Homo sapiens: one gene and its partners. The protein of the gene in region 2 purifies or fractionates together with the protein of the main gene of each other region. This does not show direct contact. Each region holds a gene or a part of one and is shown on either strand. Other genes may lie near its edges.

What was found. Proteins that work in one complex are often made in the same cells at the same time.
Region 1: the proteins of RTEL1 (region 2) and AATF purify together in Homo sapiens (affinity purification with mass spectrometry, with the first as the bait; one large-scale study listed by BioGRID). This does not show direct contact.
Region 3: the proteins of RTEL1 (region 2) and CCNYL1 purify together in Homo sapiens (affinity purification with mass spectrometry, with the first as the bait; one large-scale study listed by BioGRID). This does not show direct contact.
Region 4: the proteins of RTEL1 (region 2) and WDFY3 purify together in Homo sapiens (affinity purification with mass spectrometry, with the first as the bait; one large-scale study listed by BioGRID). This does not show direct contact.

Annotation. Positions count from the first base shown.
Region 1 is NC_000017.11:36,986,336-36,991,438, reverse strand, and holds part of AATF (protein AATF), read right to left. Parts: intron 4,823-5,103; coding exon 4,708-4,822; intron 2,921-4,707; coding exon 2,719-2,920; intron 2,193-2,718; coding exon 2,028-2,192; intron 666-2,027; coding exon 582-665; intron 1-581. UniProt on the Homo sapiens protein: Part of the small subunit (SSU) processome, first precursor of the small eukaryotic ribosomal subunit.
Region 2 is NC_000020.11:63,674,876-63,679,978, reverse strand, and holds part of RTEL1 (regulator of telomere elongation helicase 1), read right to left. Parts: intron 2,336-5,103; exon of another isoform or gene 1,835-2,335; coding exon 1,796-1,834; exon of another isoform or gene 1,712-1,795; coding exon 1,633-1,711; exon of another isoform or gene 1,604-1,632; intron 131-1,603; coding exon 33-130; intron 1-32. UniProt on the Homo sapiens protein: A probable ATP-dependent DNA helicase implicated in telomere-length regulation, DNA repair and the maintenance of genomic stability. Acts as an anti-recombinase to counteract toxic recombination and limit crossover during meiosis.
Region 3 is NC_000002.12:207,714,022-207,719,124, reverse strand, and holds part of CCNYL1 (cyclin-Y-like protein 1), read right to left. Parts: intron 1-5,103. UniProt on the Homo sapiens protein: Key regulator of Wnt signaling implicated in various biological processes including male fertility, embryonic neurogenesis and cortex development. Activates the cyclin-dependent kinase CDK16, and promotes sperm maturation.
Region 4 is NC_000004.12:84,815,706-84,820,808, forward strand, and holds part of WDFY3 (WD repeat and FYVE domain-containing protein 3), read right to left. Parts: intron 4,482-5,103; coding exon 4,380-4,481; intron 1,881-4,379; coding exon 1,687-1,880; intron 1-1,686. UniProt on the Homo sapiens protein: Required for selective macroautophagy (aggrephagy). Acts as an adapter protein by linking specific proteins destined for degradation to the core autophagic machinery members, such as the ATG5-ATG12-ATG16L E3-like ligase, SQSTM1 and LC3.

The DNA.
Region 1 (5,103 bases), on a different chromosome or scaffold from region 2:
TCTGAAAACATATTGAGAACTGGACTATATTTCAACTTCTACCAATTCTCTCTGTCTTCAAAAGCACTATGCTCTTATTATAATCAACAGTTGCAGACATTCTCAATACATACTTAACTGACTTCGACAGGCACAAAAAGACATTAAGAACAAGATTTAACAGATAATAGGATCAGTAGCGCAATTCAGGAACTCTGGGATCCCAGCCCTCCAGCTCCACGGCCCATTCTAATAGTAATGAGACAAGAAACCAAATAACTTAACAAATCCTCCATCATCAAAAATGGCTCAGAAAGAACCCACTTGACTCAGAGAAAAAAACCTGAAACTGTTTTACAGCTAATTTACACTCAAGCAACAACAAAGTAGCTATAGCTGTTTTCATTTCAAAAGGAAAACATAAAATAGAAGAAAAGCAACAAATCCACAATGACACTGTAAGTCAATTTTGAACGCGGGAGTTCTAACTCACTGTCTGACTCTATCCTTCCAAAATAAGCAACTTCTTTGTTCAGAGAATTCTATAAGCTGCTTTAAAATGCTAAAACATGATTTGTAACAAGAGAGTGTAAAAGTCTCACCTGGTGGTAAAAGTCATCATCATCAAAGATTTCTTCATCCAAGTCCTTCAGATGAGCATTAGCAGGGGCTTGAGGAAGGATCTCCTATGTTAACAATGAGTAAGAAAAGAGTGAATCCCAACAAGGCTATCTAACTAATGTAGCTACTATAAATAATATGTAGAACAGTCAAAGCACTGTTTTCCTTAAGATATAAAAAGTTCTTAAAATTAAAAAACAAAACAGTCCAATATGAAAACAGGCAAAAACATTAACAGGCAGTTGACCAAAAAAACCCATAAATAATCATATGAAAATATGTTTACCCTCATTCAAATTAAATATGTGTAAATTAGAATTAGAAGATACCATTTTTCACCTCTACGACTGAAATTAATGCAGCCTTTTTGGAGGCAATTTGGCAACATCTATCAGAATTTGGTGTATTTTCTTTAACACTTCCACTTCAAGAAATCTACCCATATATTTATACGAACACATAATACATGTACAGGAATCTTTCCTGTAGCAGTGTTTCTGAAACTGGAGACAACATAATATCCATTGTTTGCATAAATGATAGTGCATATCCATACAATGGAATACTTTGAGGTCATTAGGAAAAATGAGGTAGCTCTCTAGGTAATGAAATGGAAAGAGTATCTAGGACTTATTAGATTTTAAAAGTTGCAAGACTTTAAATACAGTTGTAATATTTTACATATTTATACTACATAAATGTCTCTCATTTAGTAAAAAAGGCAACCATATTTATACATATATATTTGTTATTTGCACACATATATAGTTACACAAATAGAAAAGACCCAAAAACTTGTTACAACTATTAATTATTAACTGTAAACTTGTTACAACTATTAAATACTGAAAATTTCACCTCAGGAGTTACGTTAACAGGCAATTGACAAAAAAAATAAAAAAATTTCACCTCAGGAGTGAAATTTTCAGAGTAGAGAATTTTGCTTTTCATTTTAAGTTGCTATAAACTAAAAAAGGATTAAGTATATATTTCTTCCATAATTAAAAAATTTTAAATGTTTCCTTTAAACAAAAGAATTTGACTATTCCACTTCTGCACCCTTTCTAAAGTACCTAAATGGCAAACGTTGAGCCTAAAGTACACACTTGTTTCAATACTGACATTTCTACAGAAGTAGCTTTAAAACTGAATTTTGAAAATTGGATTATGAATGCTTCTACTACCAGACTCCTGCATCAAACTCAAAATTAAGAGAAGATGACACACAGGAGTTAATAGAAGCCCCATTTTTAAAAACTCTCTCCTCTCACATACACTCAAGTTTCTCTCAGTAATCCAGTAAAGTAGTGTTGCTTTCCTTTCTCTCACTAACCTCTTATATAAACAGGTAATAGCTACAAGTTTTTCAGCTAATAAGCCTCATAGAAACTATTCCCCATAATCACTCTGCATTACAGAGTTCTTACCGGTTCCCCTGGCAAACTCTCTGGGACAGGCTGAGCTGCTGGCTCAGGTTTGCCAAGAACTCGATAGACAGAGCGCTTGGTCTGTGTCCTTCGAAGTAATCTCTCTTTGTCCATCAGAATATGGTCGATCTGAGTCAAGATTGAGCGTTCAAAGGCACCAAAACCCTGCAACAACATTAAGCAGTGTCAGATAATGCAGAAAATCAGTGCTGAAGGCAAGCTACATTGGTTTCTCTATCTTTCTGTGTCAGCAGAGAGATAGAAAATCATCTTTTCAGGAGGGACTTTCTGTAAAGGACTGAGTTTGTGAGTGGCTATAATTGTTCTTAAAAAAAAAAAGTTAGTCTTAAGCAGGTCATATCATTTTTCTACACACGGAGATTAGCTTCTGATACTTTAATAATTATTGCTTTGAAATCCACTCCTTTAAAGTATTTGGATTTTCAGCACTTGAACACTTACAAGGCCTCAATTTTAAGAATAAAACATTCTTTCTAATAAAGTTAAAATCCCAAGTCTGAATCGTATAAACCCCAGTGCCAGAAGTTCAGTAGATTTTGCTATAGAAATGAATGATTACCATTACATCGTGACAACATCCATATAAATGAGCTGTAGTTCCAATTTCTTAAAACTTCTTCAAGTTGCCACAACCTATCTTACACATACATGCGCGCATACACACACTTGCCTTCCCCAGTTTTCCAGAAGCCAGTTTGGTCTTATCGTGCCATTTCTGAAGTGTGCGGTTCCTGTAGACTGTAAAGTCGGCAAAGCGCTTTGCCATGAAGCTGGGATAGTCCTCCATCTCCAGCTTCCTCTTTGCAGGGACCCTTCTTCGTTGCTGCTTCTTCTCTTCTACCAGCTCATCATCTTCACTAGAAATCTCCTCACTAGAAAAGCAGTAAGAATATTATGTCCAGTGTAAACAAACATTACTTAGATTTTAAAAACTAGGCTCACATAAAGGACTGAGAATATTTAGGCCTTACCTGTTCTGTCTCCATTCAAAATAACACCAAAGATATAAGGATGGCTTTTGCTCTTTGAGAAGAATATTCATGAGATCAATCAAAAACTCGTGTAACTTTTTTTTTTGAGACAGTCTTGCTCTGTTGCCCAGGCTGGAGTGCAGTGGCGCGATCTTGGCTCACTGCAACCTCCACTTCTGGGTTCAAGCAATTCTCATGCCTCAGCCTCATGGGTAGCTGGGATTACAGGTGTGTGCAACCATGCCCGACTAATTTTTTTCATATTTTTAGTAAAGATGGTGTTTCACTATGTTGGCCAAGCTGGTTTCAAACTCCTGGCCTCCAGTGATCCACCTGCCTCGGCCTCCCAAAGTGCTGGGATTACAGGGCATGAGCCACCACACCCAGCCTCATGTAACTTTTAAAACAAATATAAAAAGAACTAGTTTCAAAATATTTTTTAAAAGGTAAGTAAACCATAAAAATAAATGAGGTTTTAAAAGAATTATTAGAAATGTGTATGAACCAGGCCTGCAGTATTATAGGACAGTATTTAAAAATTAAACACATAACCATATTTCTACGACCTTAATCCTCAAATCAATAAGGGAAATGTGTCTCTCTGTAACCAACTGTTAAGGAAAGATGAATAATATTAGTTGAACCAAATACAAGAGAAGCTGAATGTGAAGAAAACTCAAAGCGGTAGGCAACAATTAGCACTAACTAACCTGCAGTGCCATCTATGCAACTGCCATGGCAATGTAATACAACCTCCAACTATCTGCCAGTTGCACTCACTGGATTACTGACCTCAACATATAATAGGTGCTCAATAAATGTGAGTTTCCTTTTTGTCCTCCCAACTAGTTCAGTAGATAAAAAGTGAAACAAAAGATAAGCTCGAGGGAAAAAAAGCAAGCAGGTATATACAGCAGGTGTAAACAAAAGGGGGAAAAATCTTCATCAAATGTAATAATTTCAGGGGGAAAAAATAATTATTTTGCTGTTTTCTGAAATTTTTCCATCTTTCATAATAACAGCTTTTATTCAAAGGAGATGGCTGTGACCAGTGATTCCAATATATGGTATGGGCACAGAATGTTTCATAAACATTAATTAAGCATTAATATTTTAAAAATGTGCTTTTGGCCAGGTGAAGTGGCCCATGCTTATAATTCCAGCACTTTGGGAGGCTGAGGTGGAAGGATGGCTCGAGCCCAGGAGTTTGAGACCAGATAGGGAAACACAGCAAGACCCTGTCTCTACAAAAAAAAAAAAAAAAAATAGCCAGGCATGGTGGCAAGTGCCTGCAGTCCCAGCTATTTGGGAGGCTGAAGCAGGAGGACCGCTTAAGCCCAGGAGTTTGAGGCTGCAGTGAGCTGCGATCACATCACTGCACTCCAGCCTGGATGACAGTGTAAGACCCCATCTCTAAAAAACAAAGTGCTTTTATCTTCTAATTCCAATAGATCTAAAGAGAAGGCAAGCCTTTGTCTAAGACCGCAAAGCACATCAGGTACAACTAAATATAAAAATCTAAAATCTAATCACCAACTTATGTGCCATCCTGACCATCAGGTAAATATGAGACTCTATTTTACTAACATTAATATCTGCCTGAAGAGAACTTAGCTTTTCTTTCATAAATGATGGGAAACTATCCAAATGAAAAGAAAATAAGCAACTCCATGATTCTGTTCTCTTACCTTCCCGCATTGGGCTTTGTCCCATCTACTAGATATCTAGTGTCTGGGTACTGGAAAAGCAACTCTTCCTGAAGACCTACCAATGACCTCAACAATGCTTTAAGTGCCTTGTGACCTGGGAAATAAAGGACAGAGAAAGGACAATTAATTATCTACAATTCTCCAAAGTAGGTGATGCCTATAACTCATGACTCCTGAGCAGTTCTGGCTGTGGGGAGTGAAGGGGAGGCACAGGATACACACAGGAACTAAATACTCTCTGAAATATTCCCAAATGGAAATAACAACGTTGCCTACCTCACAGGATTGTTGTGAGGAACAAGCAAGATCATGCATGTAAGGTGCTTAGAAAAGTGTCTGCAAAGAGTAAGAGTCCAATACATTGTCAGCTCTTAA
Region 2 (5,103 bases):
GCCCGCACCAAAGACCCCGTGCCAGCACTCACGTCCTGCCAGGTGCTGGATGATCTGGTCCAGCGAGTCCAGGATGCAGCCCTTGGTCTGAAACGTGATCTGGGCTTCAGCAAACAGCTCAAAGATGTAGCTGCCGAGGAGAAGAAGGCAGGCTCGAGCCTGGCGGGGGGACCAGACTGCAGCTTTGGGAACTGAGGAGAAGAAGGCAGGCTCGGGCCTGAGGGGGGACGACACTGGTCAAAGATGTAGCTGCCGAGAAGAAAACAGGCTCGAGCCTGGAGGGGGAAATCAGGCTGCAGCTTTGGAACTGAAGGCAACAACTGTGGAAGTTTCCTTCCCTCGGAAACAAATTCAGCCCTCCAGGGGACGCCAGCATTGGAGGTGAGAGGCCTCCGCCCTCAGGAGCCTCCAGGTGGGGAGAGGAGGCCTGGCCAGCACGAGAACAGCACCGAGGAAAAGAAGCCGCCTCAGAGCAGGGGCCGCCGTCAGAGGGGAGGGATGGGGTCACTAGGGGGTCGTCAAGAGGTTGTCAGGGGCTTCTGGGAGGCGGTGGCTCTGGGCAGAGTCCCCAAAGCTTTGGAGAGTGACAGTGATGGGGCAGCAGAAGCTACAGGAGGGGACCCTGAGGGTGCAGGGTGGCCGAGGAGCCAGGCCAGAGCCTTGAGCATTACGCTGAGGACAGTGGCTCCACCTGGAAGCAACTGGGATTCCCCCGACCAGGTCGGCGCTCAGGCAGAACACGCTCCACCTCGGCGGCTGTGCGCTCAGGAGAGCCCCCACACAGGCCCCAGCCCTGACTCCTCATCTGCCTGCAGGACAGACAGCAAACCCTGCTGCCCTGGCTGCGGAGAAGACTGGAGCCCCACGGAGCGTTCAGAACGTTCCAGGCCTCCCGGAGTCCAAAAGAGGTGGTGGCTGGGACACTCATCGTCCTAACAAGAAGGTCTCGTTCTAACAGGCACCTGTGCTCAAATGACGGACTGGACCAGGGTCCAGGGAAAGGCCTGGAGGAGGAGAAACTGCAGGAAACCCAGCGGCCCCGCGTGGGAGAGTGTGCTGTTCCGTGGGTGTGTGTGTGCTGTCTGTGGGAGTGTGTGTGCTGTTCCGTGGGAGAGTCTGCTGTTCCGTGGGAGTGTGTGCCGTTCCGTGGGTGTGTGTGCTGTTCCGTGGGAGTGTGTGTGCTGTTCCGTGGGAGAGTGTGCTGTTCCGTGGGAGAGTGTGCCGTTCCGTGGGAGTGTGTGCCGTTCCGTGGGTGTGTGTGCTGTTCCGTGGGAGTGTGTGTGCTGTTCCGTGGGTGTGTGTGCCGTTCCGTGGGTGTGTGTGCTGTTCCGTGGGAGTGTGTGTGCTGTTCGTGGGAGTGTGTGTGCTGTTCGTGGGAGTGTGTGTGCTGTTCCATGGGTGTGTGTGCCGTTCCGTGGGGGGCTGTGTGCTGTCCCGTGGGAGTGTGTGCTGCTCCTCTCAACATCTCAGCAACCAGATCATGCAAAGCAGGTGCTCCTCCCAGGTCTCAAAAAGGGAAAACAGGCCTGAAAACAGGCCTCACTCGTGATGTGACAGCCCAGGACTGCACCATGGCCCGTTTCTAGCTCTAGGCTGGGCCTGCAGTGAAGGGGCTGGCTCCCCGCCTCTCACCTCCCTGGCTTGGTGACACCGCTGTCGTCTCCAGGCAGCTCAACAGCATCGATGGCCCCCTCCAGGCGCAGCAGGATCACTGTGGGTCGAGGAGGTGTCACCCACCTCCTCGCAAGGAGGAGGCCCCACCCAGCTGCAAGGAGGCGGGGAGGGCAACACTTACTCTTCAGCTTTGCAATGTCTTCCAGCTCCATGTTCAGCCCTGGGCAAGAGAAAGGCAGCAAAGGCAGTCTGCATCACGCTCGTGCCAACAACCCCGCCCTTGAGAACCAGGATTCCTGGCATGGAAAAAAGGACACCAACATGGAAAGGAAGAGGCCACACAGAATCCATGCAGGCCAAATCCACCAACATGGGAAGGAAGAGGCCACACAGAATCCGTGCAGGCCAAATCCACCAACAGGGGAAGGAAGAGGCCACACAGAATCCGTGCAGGCCAAATCCACCAACAGGGGAAGGAAGAGGCCACACAGAATCCGTGCAGGCCAAATCCACCAACAGGGGAAGGAAGAGGCCACACAGAATCCGTGCAGGCCAAATCCACCAACAGGGGAAGGAAGAGGCCACACAGAATCCGTGCAGGCCAAATCCACCAACAGGGGAAGGAAGAGGCCACACAGAATCCGTGCAGGCCAAATCCACCAACAGGCGAAGGAAGAGGCTACACAGGCCAAATCCAAACTGGAGACACCAAGAGGAGCAGGTGTTTTATCTTTATTTATCTATTCATTTTTGAGACAGGGTGTCACTCTGTCACCCAGGCAGGGGTGCAGCAGCGCCATCTCTGCTCACTGCAACCTCCATGTCCCAGGTTCAAGCAATTCTCGTGTCTGTCTCCCGACTAGCTGGGACTATAGGTGTGCGCCACCATGCCCGGCTAATTTTCGCATTTTTAGTAGAGATGGGGTTTCACCCTGTTGCTCAGGCTGGTCTTAAACTCCTGACCTCAGGTGATCCACCAGTCTTGGTCTCCCAAAGTGCTGGGATTACCGCTGAGCCCTTATGCCTGGCCGGGTGTTTGACCTTTAGAATTAACATTTGTGAACACACCTGTGCGTATGGCTGTATCTCCACGAAAACACCCAGTAACAACGACCAACCCAGTAACCATGACCAACCCGCTGCCGCATGGCGGGTCTTGAAATACCGTCTTGCAGGAAAAGAAAGCAGGGCTTCTTGGAGACTTGGCTGATTCCAGGTCTGGAGCAGGACATGAGTGTGAAAAATCCTGACTCCCAGACAGCAAAGAGGCCACAACCGCCGGGGTCAGGACACAAGAGCCCACATGAAAACACCTCAAGGTGCAGCAACTGAGGTCAGGAGTGAGATTCAGGAGGGAGCATGGGGCAGGACCAATCCCCACGTTCACACACAAACATTCAGTGATGACACTTGATTGACTGATTGATTTTTGAGACGGAGTCTCGCTCTGTCGCCAGGCTGGAGTGCAATGGTGCGATCTCGGCTCACTGCAACCTCCGCCTCCTGGGTTCAAGTGATTCTCCTGCCTCAGCCTCCCAAGTAGCTGGGATTACAAGCATGCACCACCACACCTGGCTAATTTTTTTGTATTTTTAGTAGAGACGGGGTTTCACCGTGTTGGCCAGGATGGTCTCAATCTCTGACCTCGTGATCCGCCTGCCTGGGCCTCCCAAAGTGCTGGGATGACAGGTGTGAGACAGCACACCCGGCCCACCCCCAGCATTTGTCCCACCTTTCCTGTGTGAATGGGATCACCACATAGCTGATATGGTGCAGGGCGTGGTCCTAAGTTATTCCTGCTAACTGACTAGATGATGGAATTAGCACACTGCCATCTTGCAAGCCCCCAGTGATTAACATATTCAGGTGTTCAGCAGCAACAATGTTCACATGGGAAGAAACGGGAAAGGAGATACTGTGAGCCTTCTGATAGAAAGGACGTCCCATCTGGAGCCCGGCAAACGGTGGCCGCAGTCTAACTGGGGCCCTCAAGCCACCTAAGTTCAGAGTAAACCGGGGAACTCGTGTGGCTGCCCCTCCTGTACAGATTCCGACTCTGCAGGGTAAACGGCCTGGGCTCTTCAATAAATAAAGTGTGAGGAAAAGAATGGACCCTGCCAAGCACAGTGGCACACGCCTGTAGTCCCAGGAGCTTGGGAGGCCGAGGCAGGAGGATCACTTGAGCCCAAGAGGTGGAGGCTGCAGGAGGTGGAGGCTGCAGTGAGCCGTGATGGCACCACCGCTCTCCAGCCTGGGTGACAGAGTGAGACCCCATCTCCAAAGGGGTGGGGGAACAGATAGGGATGAAAACTGAAGTTCTGGTCCTGAATGAGATGGCAGAAGCCCACCCCACCACACGTCCCCCACTAGTTACAACAAAAAGCCCTGCACATCAAGTAACTAACAAAACTGAAGAGTGGAGAAGGCCCCGTGGTGATGTTCACACAGGCCTGGGGGTGGGTGGATGTTTCTCCCACGTTATGTAAGCGATGAAATGGCAGCTGCCGAGATGAGGGAAGGAGACCTGTCACTCTCCCCACCCTGCGCCAAGCGAAGGATGGAAAGAGGCGGCCGTCCACCCCGTTAGAGAGGTGGGGTTGGGGGACTGTGGAGAGGAGGGAGGTGGAGCGTTCAAAGTCCCAGGAACCCCTTCCCCCACTGCAACTCCCTGCGTGGCAATCTTGAGAGCCGGTGGCAGTGGTGCACACCTGTGGTCCCGGCGCTTTAAGACGCTGAGACGGGAAGATCCCATGAGCCCAGGAGGCCGAGGCTACAGGGAACTTTGATTGTACCACCACATTCCAGCCTGGGCAACAGAGTGAGACCCTGTCACTTAAATATATGTATATATATATATATATAAAGGGATTCTAAAGCCAGAACACCTGATAACTTCTGTACTAAACAAATGCCAACTTTGCAAACTCACTCTCTACCAAGCAGCCATCCTGGTGAGAAGGGTGAGGACGGGGCTCCCCAGGGTCCAGGGTCCCCGTGGTGTCCGTCCACATGTGCGATTTTAAAGGAAAATGGGGGAAGCTGATGCTGTTTACACCTGGAGATGCTCACGAGCAAGTAGTGTCACAGCAGAACCTATGAAGATATTCACACAGACTCCTAGTCAGCTGTTTACAGAAGCCATGTAGAAAATATGGACAAAGGCCGGGCGTGGCGGCTCACGCCTGTAATCCCAGCACTTTGGGAGGCCGAAGCGGGTGGATCACGTGAGGTCAGGAGTTCGAGACCAGCCTGGCCAACACGGAGAAACCATCTCTACTAAAAATACAAAATTAGCTGGGCGTGGTGGTGCACGCCTGTGATCCCAGCTACTTGGGAGGCTGAGGCAGGAGAATTGCTTGAACCCAGGAGGCGGAGGTTGCAGTGAGCCAAGATCGCGCCATTGCACTCCAGCCTGGGCAACAAAAGTGAAACTCCATCTCAAAAAAAAAAAAAAGAAAGAAAATATAGACCAACTGACAACATCCATGA
Region 3 (5,103 bases), on a different chromosome or scaffold from region 2:
GAATTCCTTTCAGTGTTGTTGTTTTAAATAAGCAAATACATATTATTTCATACATTACTGTACATTCTCCTCCTTGTTTTTTTTCATGTAACATATCCTGGATATCTGGGTATCACTCCATAGCAGTAAAGAGAGTTTTTTTTTTTTTTAACAGCTCCATAATTCTCCTCTGTGTGGATATAACAGTTTATTTTACCAATTTCTTACTAGACATATTATTTCCAATATTTAGCTATTGAAAATAATGCAACAAAACCTTATGCACATGTTATTTCATATTTATGGGGTATGCCTTCAGGATAAATTCCTTGAAGTAGGATTTCTGGATTAAATGCATTTGCAATGTTTGAGATTATGCCAAATTCCTCTTCAGGGAGTCAAACCACCTTACATTTTAACCAGCAATACACGAATGCAACTCTTCGCAGCCACACCAAAGAATGTATTGTCAAGTTTTTGGATCTTCTCCCAACAGAAGAGAAATCACAGCACAGTTTTCGTTTGTATTTCTCTTAAGTGTGAAGCTGTGTTTAAGGATCATCTGCATTTATTTTTCTGTGACTTGTCTATTCATCACTTTGCTACCTACTTTTACAGCTAGTCTGATCTTTTTTTTTTTTTGAGACAGTCTCACTGTCACCCAGGCTGGAGGGCAGTGGAGCAATCACAGCTCAATGCAGCCTTGACTTCCTGGGCTCAGGAGATTCTCCTGCCTCAGCTTCTTGAGTAGCTGGGACTATGGGTGTGTGCCACCACACCTGGCTAATTTACTTTTTGTAGAGGCAGGGTCTCAGCACGTTGTCCAGGCTAGTCCCAGCCCACTCCTGGGCTCAAGCAATCCTCCTGCCTCTGCTTCCCAAACTGCTGGGATTATAGGCATGAGCCACCGTCTGATCTTTTTCTTAAACAATTAAAAATATTGGCCGGGCATGGTGGCTCACACCTGTAATCCCAGCACCTTGGGAGGCCAGGGTGGGTGGATCACGAGGTTGGGAGATCGAGACCATCCTGGCTAACACGGAGAAACCCCATCTCTATTAAAAATACAAAAAATGAGCCGGGTGTGGTGGCACGTGCTTGTAGCCCCAGCTACTCGGGAGGCTGAGGCAGGAGAATCGCTTGAACCCAGGAGGCGGAGGTTGCAGTGAGCCAAGATTGAGCCACTGTACTTCAACCTGGGCGACACAGTGAAGATTCCATCTCAAAAAAAAAAAAAAAGAATTAAAAATATTTCCCAGGCTATAATCCTCCAATGGTTTCCTATCACAACTAAAGTCTATATTCTTTGCCAAGGCCCACTATACACACATGGCCTTAACCCACCATAGTCCTGGCATCCTTTTCACTCTTCCGCAGCCACCCTGTGTCTTTCTGTCCTTGGCCAAAAACAAGTTTGCTCCCATTCAAGGAACTCCAAAGTAACTGTCTGTGTGGACCCCTGGCTCTCACCAACCATCCTCACAAGGCTCCCTTCTCACTTTAGGACTGCTCACAGGTCACGTAAGGAGAGCAGCCATCTTTCATCCCCACAACCCCCATGTAACTGTCCTCCTCCCCAATCCATGACCCTATTTTACTTTTCTCCCTAGCACCTCACCACCTAACATTCTTGATTATTCATGTATTATCTATCCCTAGCTCCCTCCAGAATGTAAGGATCAGAGTTAGGATGAGGTTCTGTCTTGTATACCACTGTCTGCCCTAAATCTGGAACACAGCCTGGCCACCTAAAGGTACTCAATAAACATCTGTTTCAGCACACCCAAAACTAGTCAAGTTTCTCCCAGTTTTCCCACATCTTTTAATATTTCTTCTAACATTCTCTCTTGATTTGTCATCTAATCAAATCTTTTAAAGTGGTAAGCATCAAATCTTTTAAAGTGGTAGCTATTCAGAATTAAAGATGCAAGATAGGCTACCAAGAAACAAAAAATATTAAATGATGAATTCTAAAGTCCAGGGAAAAGTCAATGCTAACTCCAATTTGACATAAGAACTTTTTTTTTTTTTTTTTTTGAGATGGAGTCTCGCTCCGTCACCCAGGCTGGAGTGCAGTGGCGTGATCTCGGCTCACTGCAATCTCTGCCTCCTGGGTTCACACCATTCTCCTGCCTCAGCCTCCCGAGTAGCTGGGACTACAGGCGCCCGCCACCACGCCCGGCTAATTTTTTGTATTTTTCGTAGAGACGGGGTTTCACCGTGTTAGCCAGGATGGTCTCGATCTCCTGACCTCGTGATCCACCCGCCTCGGCCTCCCAAAGTGCTGGGATTACAGGCGTGAGCCACCACACCTGGCCCATAAGAACATTTAATACTAAAATATCTTAACTACAAAATGACTCAACCCATAGATTTAACTGAATTCTACAGGGAGGTACAAGGCATCAGTCATCAAAATATGTTTTTATCGGTACCCTTGAAATCAAATGTAATGAGACTGTGTATGATGTTACTAGAAAAGATGCCCAATCATAAAGGATAGGTAAATAAATGATACTCCAACCATCTGATGGTACATTAAGCAGTTACTAGAAGGCATGCGATAGAGCAGGGTGTCCTGGCATGGAAAGATATCTTGGAGCACTCTCTGGATGTCAAGCAGTGATTCAGGAATTTATGACATTATTTCACTGCTGTAAGTTATGAAGCAGCTCATATAGAATGATCTCATTTTTCTAAAATAAAATGTTATATTCATATGCATACCATAATCAATGACTTTTCTGTATTCTCTATGTCTTTTACATCAAACATATTATTCAAAAAAGCAAAAAAAAAAAAAAAAGAGAGGGCTTAAAATAGCTACTGGAAAGAGGAAAGATCTGTTGCTCAGAGGTTTTTCCACATTACATTGCCAATTCTTTCCCTACCTTCACCCATCAGTGGAAAAGAATAGAAAGAGTCACTTCAGAGAGCGCCTTTAGCCAGCAAATTAGCAAAGCTCCTAACGTCAGAACATAAAATGCTCCATGAAAAGTCAAGAGTACTAATAAAATCGGACAATAAGATCTTAGTATCTTATTTTGTGTTACTGATACTACCGTCAGTTATGTTAGACATACCGTTAAATAAAGGCAAGGTAGTAGAAAATACTTTGAGTCTATCTGAAATGTTTACTAGGTTCTTAGGAGCATCTCTTAGCTTGACGAGACCAGGCGTGGTGGCTCACACCTGTAATCCCAGCACTTTGGGAGGTTGAGACAGGTGGATCACCTGAGGTCAGGAGTTCCAGACCAGCCTGGCCAACATGGTGAAACCATCTCTACTAAAAACACAAAAAATTAGCTGGGCGTGGTGGCACACACCTGTAATCCCAGCTACTCAGGAGGCTGAAGCAGGAGAACTGCTTGAACTCTGGGCGCAGAGGTTACAGTGAGCCGAGATCGCGCCATTCCACTCCAGCCTGAGCAACAAGAGCGAAACTCCATCTCAAAAAAAAAAAAAAGGCCAGGCGCGGTGGCTCACACCTATGATCCCAGCACTTTGGGAGGCCAAGGCAGCTGGATCGCTTGAGGTCAGGAGTTCGAGACCAGCCTGGCCAACATACTGAAACCCTGTCTCTACTAAAAATACAAAAATTAGCTGGGCATGGTGGCATATGCCTGTAATCCCAACTACTTGGGAGGCTGAGGCAGGAGAATCACTTGAACACGGGAGGAAGAGGTTGCACTGAACCAAGTTTGTGCCATTGCACTCCAGCCTAGGCAAGAGTGAAGCTCTGTCAAAAAAAAAAAAAAAAAAAAAAGAAATAGCTTGAAGAACAAAGCCGAGCGTCATTTATGTATGATTTTTGTCTAAGTAACAAAAATAATTCTTCATTGTAGAAAAGCTAAATTTTTTGTTTGTTTGTTTGTTTTGAGACAGAGTCTTGCTCCACTGTCCAGGCTAGAGTGCAGTGGCACGATCTCAGCTCACTGCAACCTCTGCCTCCTGGGTTCAAGTGATTCTCCTGCCTTAGCCTCCTGAGTAGCTGGGATTACAGATGCCCGCCACCACACCCAGCTAATTTTTGTATTTTTAGTAGAGACGGGGTTTCACCATGTTGGCCAGGCTGCTCTCGAACTCCTGACCTCGTGATCCGCCCACCTCAGCCTCCCGAAGTGCTGGGATTACAGGCGTGAGCCACCATGCCCAGCCAAATGTTTTACATCTCAGTAAGAATTTCTGTTTCCAGGGAGACTGATATAAAATTGTCTGAAATAAAGATATTAAAAGCAAACTTTCAATGTGTCTATACTTTATATTTGGTGTTCTGGCCATGTTTCTATGGAAACTTATGAATAATAGGCAAATGCCGAAATGGAGATTTCTATTATCACTTTATTGAATGCCACAAAAATAAATTTTGAGACAAATTGAAATAAAAATGTAACTGTCATACTAACATACAATGGTAAATTCTGTGCTTACAAATTCTCTTTTTCCAACTTTTCTGATTTAGCACTCTTTATCATCATCCCATGCTTAATGCCTGGTACCTTACCTTCCCTCTTGCCAGCTTCTAATATTCCTCTGTCCAGTGCATTCTCAGCTTCAATTCACAGTTACCAGAACAAACTCTTTAAAATTTATCAACCTGTTTATTTGATGGGTATATTTAGGCCATTTTGTTACCTCTACTTTTATTCTTATCCACTGAAATGAATGTATAGACATAAGATGGAGCCAGGCAAGATGGCACACGCCCGTGGTCCCAGCTATTCAGGAGGCTGAGGTGGGAGGACTGCTTGAGCCCAGGCCAGGAGTTCGAGGCCAGCCTGGTCAACACAGTGAGACTCTTTCTCTTAAAAAAAAAAAAAAAAAAAAAAAAAAGAGATGTAAGTGTTGCCTCTGAATCGTGTAAAATAAACTTTGAAAGGAACTAATCAAGACCGAAGTAAGTTCTCAAAAACAGGACTATTTTATGGGTAAAATACATGATGCATTCTGGATTTTTAAAAGTTTTTTAAGAACTGAACTTGGTATATCTCACCTCCATGTCAGTCTGAGAACTGAGAACCTTAGTTCTGCTCAGTGGCTGTCTTACATAGTCATTCTACATACCTAACTCTTTATTTCTTCATTAGCAACACGGGGAATATAAACAGGCCTTATTTTGGAAGG
Region 4 (5,103 bases), on a different chromosome or scaffold from region 2:
CTGAATTTTTCTCAGTGCTTCCTATCAGGAGGTGTATGCTATTCATCTGTCCATCACTGGCAAAGTTAATGCTGATCATTTAGTTACGGTAGGGTCCATTGTAAAGCTAATATTTTAGCACTCGAAATTAAGAAATATCTTTTAAGGATAAAATTTAAGAGTACGCAAAAATCCTTTCACTTCTAAAACTTTCATCTACTATCTTTAGTATCCAGTGATGAATTTTACTTGAATCAATTATTACTACGATAGTTCATAAATTGTGATTTTCTTTGACTTTTGACTATAAGTAAGAGTTTTTCCTCTTCTCTATTTGTTTGATTGTACTTACTTAATTGCTTATTTTCTTTGATCTCTTCTTTACTTTTTCAAGGCTAACTGAAATGTTTTAGGCTCATTTTGTTTCTTTCTCTGCCCTCGTCCTGGAATCAAGGAGGCCTGAATCCTTACAACGGAAAATTGTATTTAGAAACCTTGCATCAATCAATAAATTAAAGAACATAAATTTTAATGGACTTCTTTCACTTTACTCAGATATTATTTAAATACAAGAGCAGGTTTTTAGTCACAGAAAGAGAAGGCTATGTCTCTTTTTATTAAAACAACTATTATTCACAGCAGATAAGCTGAAAGCACAGCTTTACAAAGAGACTACATGGGTTCAGATCTAGACTCCTCTACCTACTAGACAGACATATAGAACTTGGGAAAATATTTCAACCAGTCTGTGTTTCAGTTTACAGTATGTAAAGCAGGGACACTAATAGTATTTATTTTTATCATAAGGATTAAATAAGTAGATGCAGATAAATGCATACAACAGTACTAATAGAAAGCAGTCAATAAATGTTAGCTACTATTATATCTGGAACTTGGAAATTTTTAAAATATATCATTTAATATTTAATAGTCTACTTTTCCATTACTCCTTACTTGCATTACTAAATTCACTTCTAAATGAAAGTGAAACATTCGATTATAGTTTGATTCTAAAAATTTCTTACATATCATTTCTTATAATATCAATAACCAGTAATATGGGAGAATGTGAGTGTATAAATCTGTATAAAACAATGGTGCTGTGGAAATAAAACGGGTATTGAAATCTGGGGGTCGGTTCTACTAATTAAAAGTCACTTAAGTGAACAAAATCCATGTTATATGATTTCTCTAAACCTAAGTTTTCTCATCTGCAAAACAGGGTGCTACTTAATTTATAGTATTACTAAGGAGTAAATGATAAAAGCATATGTATAACTCCTGGTATATTGTTTGATATCTACTAGAATATCCATTACTTACATACATACATATATGCATGCATGTGTATAAAATGCCAAATCTAACATTCATTTCACAGATGCATAACACTATGAGTGAATTTAACTGATCAGAAAATACATATATTTAGTATTAATTAAGATCCTATACTTCACTAATATTTAATTTAAGAGTTCCAGTAAGTCAAGATAATTACTGAAAAGGTTTATCAGCAGAAGTAAAATATATACTGAAAGACATAAATGACTGGAGTTTTTCCAAGTTCCTAACGTGTACAAAGTTGTGAGGTTTCTTGGGTAATTTGGATTTTTTTTAATTTCCCTGTCTCTAACTTAAATACAGATCATCTAAAAATAACCACAGATTTTAGTAGTAAAAGAAGGGAAACACATTTATCAAACTTACCCTTAAAATATCAGTCTTCAACTGCAATTCCGTCGGTGGGGCTGAATGCATTAGCCCCAGGAGAGTGCCCATGTCATCGTCCCCATTTGGGGAGAGCACCAGCTGTTGGATAGTCATCAAGGCATGCTGCCGGCATTGAGGGTACTTTACTATATTATGTGCACATCTTGCACCTCCAAATTCTCGAAAAATTCCTTGAAGGAAGGAGAAAAAGTCCAACAATGGCTACTTTAAAATATTCTGAGACAAGTCAGATGAATTAACATTCAGTTATTTTTTGTAGGTAAAGTAACTCATAATAATGTAAATAAAACCTACCCAACTATTTCACCTTTTAAATTACAATACAAATTTGCACAGTGGGTTGTCAGCAAAGGTATATGCAAATTTTCTCTACATTTCCTTAATGCAAGATTAATGCCGTGATATGTTCACCATGTCCAAGCTCTCAAAATCTAGAACATTCACAAGTCTCTTAGGCAGACCCTAGGAGACTCTCTATTGTAATCAACTTATGTAAAAGGCTTTCAGAGGAACAATAGCCTAAATAAAGGAGATTTAAATGAACATGGCTTCCAAAATAGTAGCAAGAAAGGAATGGAATAAATTATTCCACCATGGGAAAAATTACAAGGAACCAACATGTTTTGTTGCACAGGTAGAGCATAAGAACAAAAAGTGACAAATTCTGTAACAGAAGTATGTGTCATTGTTACTGCTCCAAAGCCTTTACACAGATTGACTTACTTAATACTCATCCCCTACCATATAGAGGTAAGGCGGTCAAAGTCATACAGCTAGTAAGCAACAGAAAAGGATGTATGCCTACATAGCCCAGCTCTGTAAGCCTGTGCTCCTGCTCACAAGTGATACTGTTCTCACATCAAATATTAATATCATCCTCCAGTATTAAAAAAATGGGCCCAGTGACTGAAATCACTAATTAGTATTTCCTCTAAGTAATTCTTCTATCCCTTACGTTTTTAGGGCATCTTGTTTATATCTCTATTATGGTTTATAACAAACAGTCTTACTATTATTGCTTATGTTTGGTCTTCCATGACTACTGGATTTTCTCCTGATTTGTGTTTCAATAAACGTTTACTAAAACAGTGTATTCTGCTATAGCAGCCACTGTCCTCTCTGCTTAGTGGCTTTCTATTTGTTAACTTTATAAAAATTATAAGATCATGAAGTCAGTCTAAGCCATGTGCTTGAGATTCAGCACATGGAATTTGTGACATCCTTTCATTACCTGAAGGCCTGTTTAGTTACCTCCTGGTTGTCAGTTAGGACCCACTAGATAATCATAATGGCTAATATTATTTAAATACTTAAACTATGAGTAAAGTACTGTTTTAAATGCCTAACATCACACAGCTAGTAACATCTTTCATACTGGGAAAAGAAAAACTGAAAAGAATTGTATGAAATTGTTTGGCACTTTGGGATATGTACTAAGTGACTTTTAGTCGTGCAGAGTAAGCTCTCCAATTGTCCAATCTCTTCCTGTGCAACTTCTAGGTCGTCTCAAGGAAAGCTAATTTGCTAAGCAAATTCCTGTTAGTCTATCTTCATTATGTTTCTGATTATCTCAGTTAACTAAACCTAGTTAGTGGAAATAAGATTATGCATTATGCCATAGACAAAATGTTACTATAGTATCCACTAAAATTCATCATACTCATTGTTTCAATTACCTGTTAAATTCATTCAAGTCTATCTTAGCATTTGCCAAATTTGTATCAGACTAATTACTTCTATAATTATGTGTCTACATTTTTCTTCACTAGATTCTAATTCCCAGGGAGCAAGAATGATCTTACCTTAGCATCTAGGTGTTAGAATAATCTAACACCTAGCTAGCATGGTACCTGGGATACACAATATATTTTAAATATGATGAATGCTGAGTTTCCCTGCATTCAGGCAAACAGTCATGCATTTGGGCATGGGGTTCATTCATCCATGGCTTTCCATAACACTTAAAATATATTTCAAGCTCCTTACCATGGCCTAAAAAGCTCCCTATGATTTGAGCCCAGCCTACTAATCTGAACTCATTATTCCTCTCAAGTTGTACTGAACTTATTACCTGAGAGTTGTTTGATGTTAATTAAAATCTCAAGTAATCTTTTTTAAAAAGCAAGAGTGATATTTTATAAATATAGTTAGGTTATCTGTTAATGACAGGTAGAAAAGTATAAAAGAGAAATTGAGACCAAAATTAAACAAAATATTTAGTAAAGTTAATTAACCTTGGAGAGATTACGTTTTATTAGAGAATCATTGTTCAGTATTTCCTGAAGGTTGTAACATTATAATACTCTAACTTGTAGTACTAAAAATATTCTTTAAATCACTGTGTAAAGAAAATATTTTAGAAAGAATTTAAATAGCAACTTATTTGAGTAAGAGTGTATCAATAAAAAATTAGAAGAATACTTTCAACACAAGACACTATAAAAAGCAATTTAAACATCATTTTGAAATAGTAACAATCTTATATGTTTTGTCATCAAGGTGCTCCTGATGGTCAAAAGCACTGCATTTTTAGGGACATGACGGGTACCATCACTGAATCAATAGTTTTTTCTCTAAAGTGACAGGAAGATTTCAGAAGCAAGAATAACCACAGAAGATGTAATCAGTGGTAATCTCCCAAAGTATTTGCTTGCAGCTTTTTAAATTACCTGCATTTGTGTTTGATCCTTGAAGAAGCACTGTCAAGGTCTCCATAACCAATAAAGCCAGGTGTTTTTGGTCTTCAACTGAACTATTATTTCTTGAGTCCCCTAAAAAAAGGTTCAAAGGTCCAAATTACAAAAGTGATAAGCTTATTTTTTCTTGATTCCGTTTTACTGTAATAATTTCTTTATTTCTTCAGTATTCAGTTTTACCCCTAATAGGACAGATATAATATAATCTTTAAAACGATGCATGCATCCAACATTTGGCAAAAGTAGGCTCAAAATCAATATTAACAGATTTTATTTCGGTATGCTTGCAAGTGGCCGTTATCCAATAAATATTAAAAATGAAAATGCAAAGGTTAAATATATCCTCTTCACAGAGGGTTTTCCTAATAAAGGATGTCAACAGGAGAACGCTAGATTTTGATACACCAAAAAGAGAGAAAAGTTCATGAATAAAGCTATCTATTCAACCTGTATTAATTCACATTTAATACTTATTAATTGCCAGATACTACTGTACTTTTATCAGATTTATCAGAGAGGTACCCAATGATAATACATTGTGTATATAACATCATTAAATATACGTATTTGCTCTGTACAATAAAAACACATTGAAGTAACTATACATTTAACTATATTTATTAGTTGTAATTAATAACAAATCTGATTATTTTCAGAAGCTTTTAAAGCTCGCTCTTAGAAGCACAAGGCAGTAGAT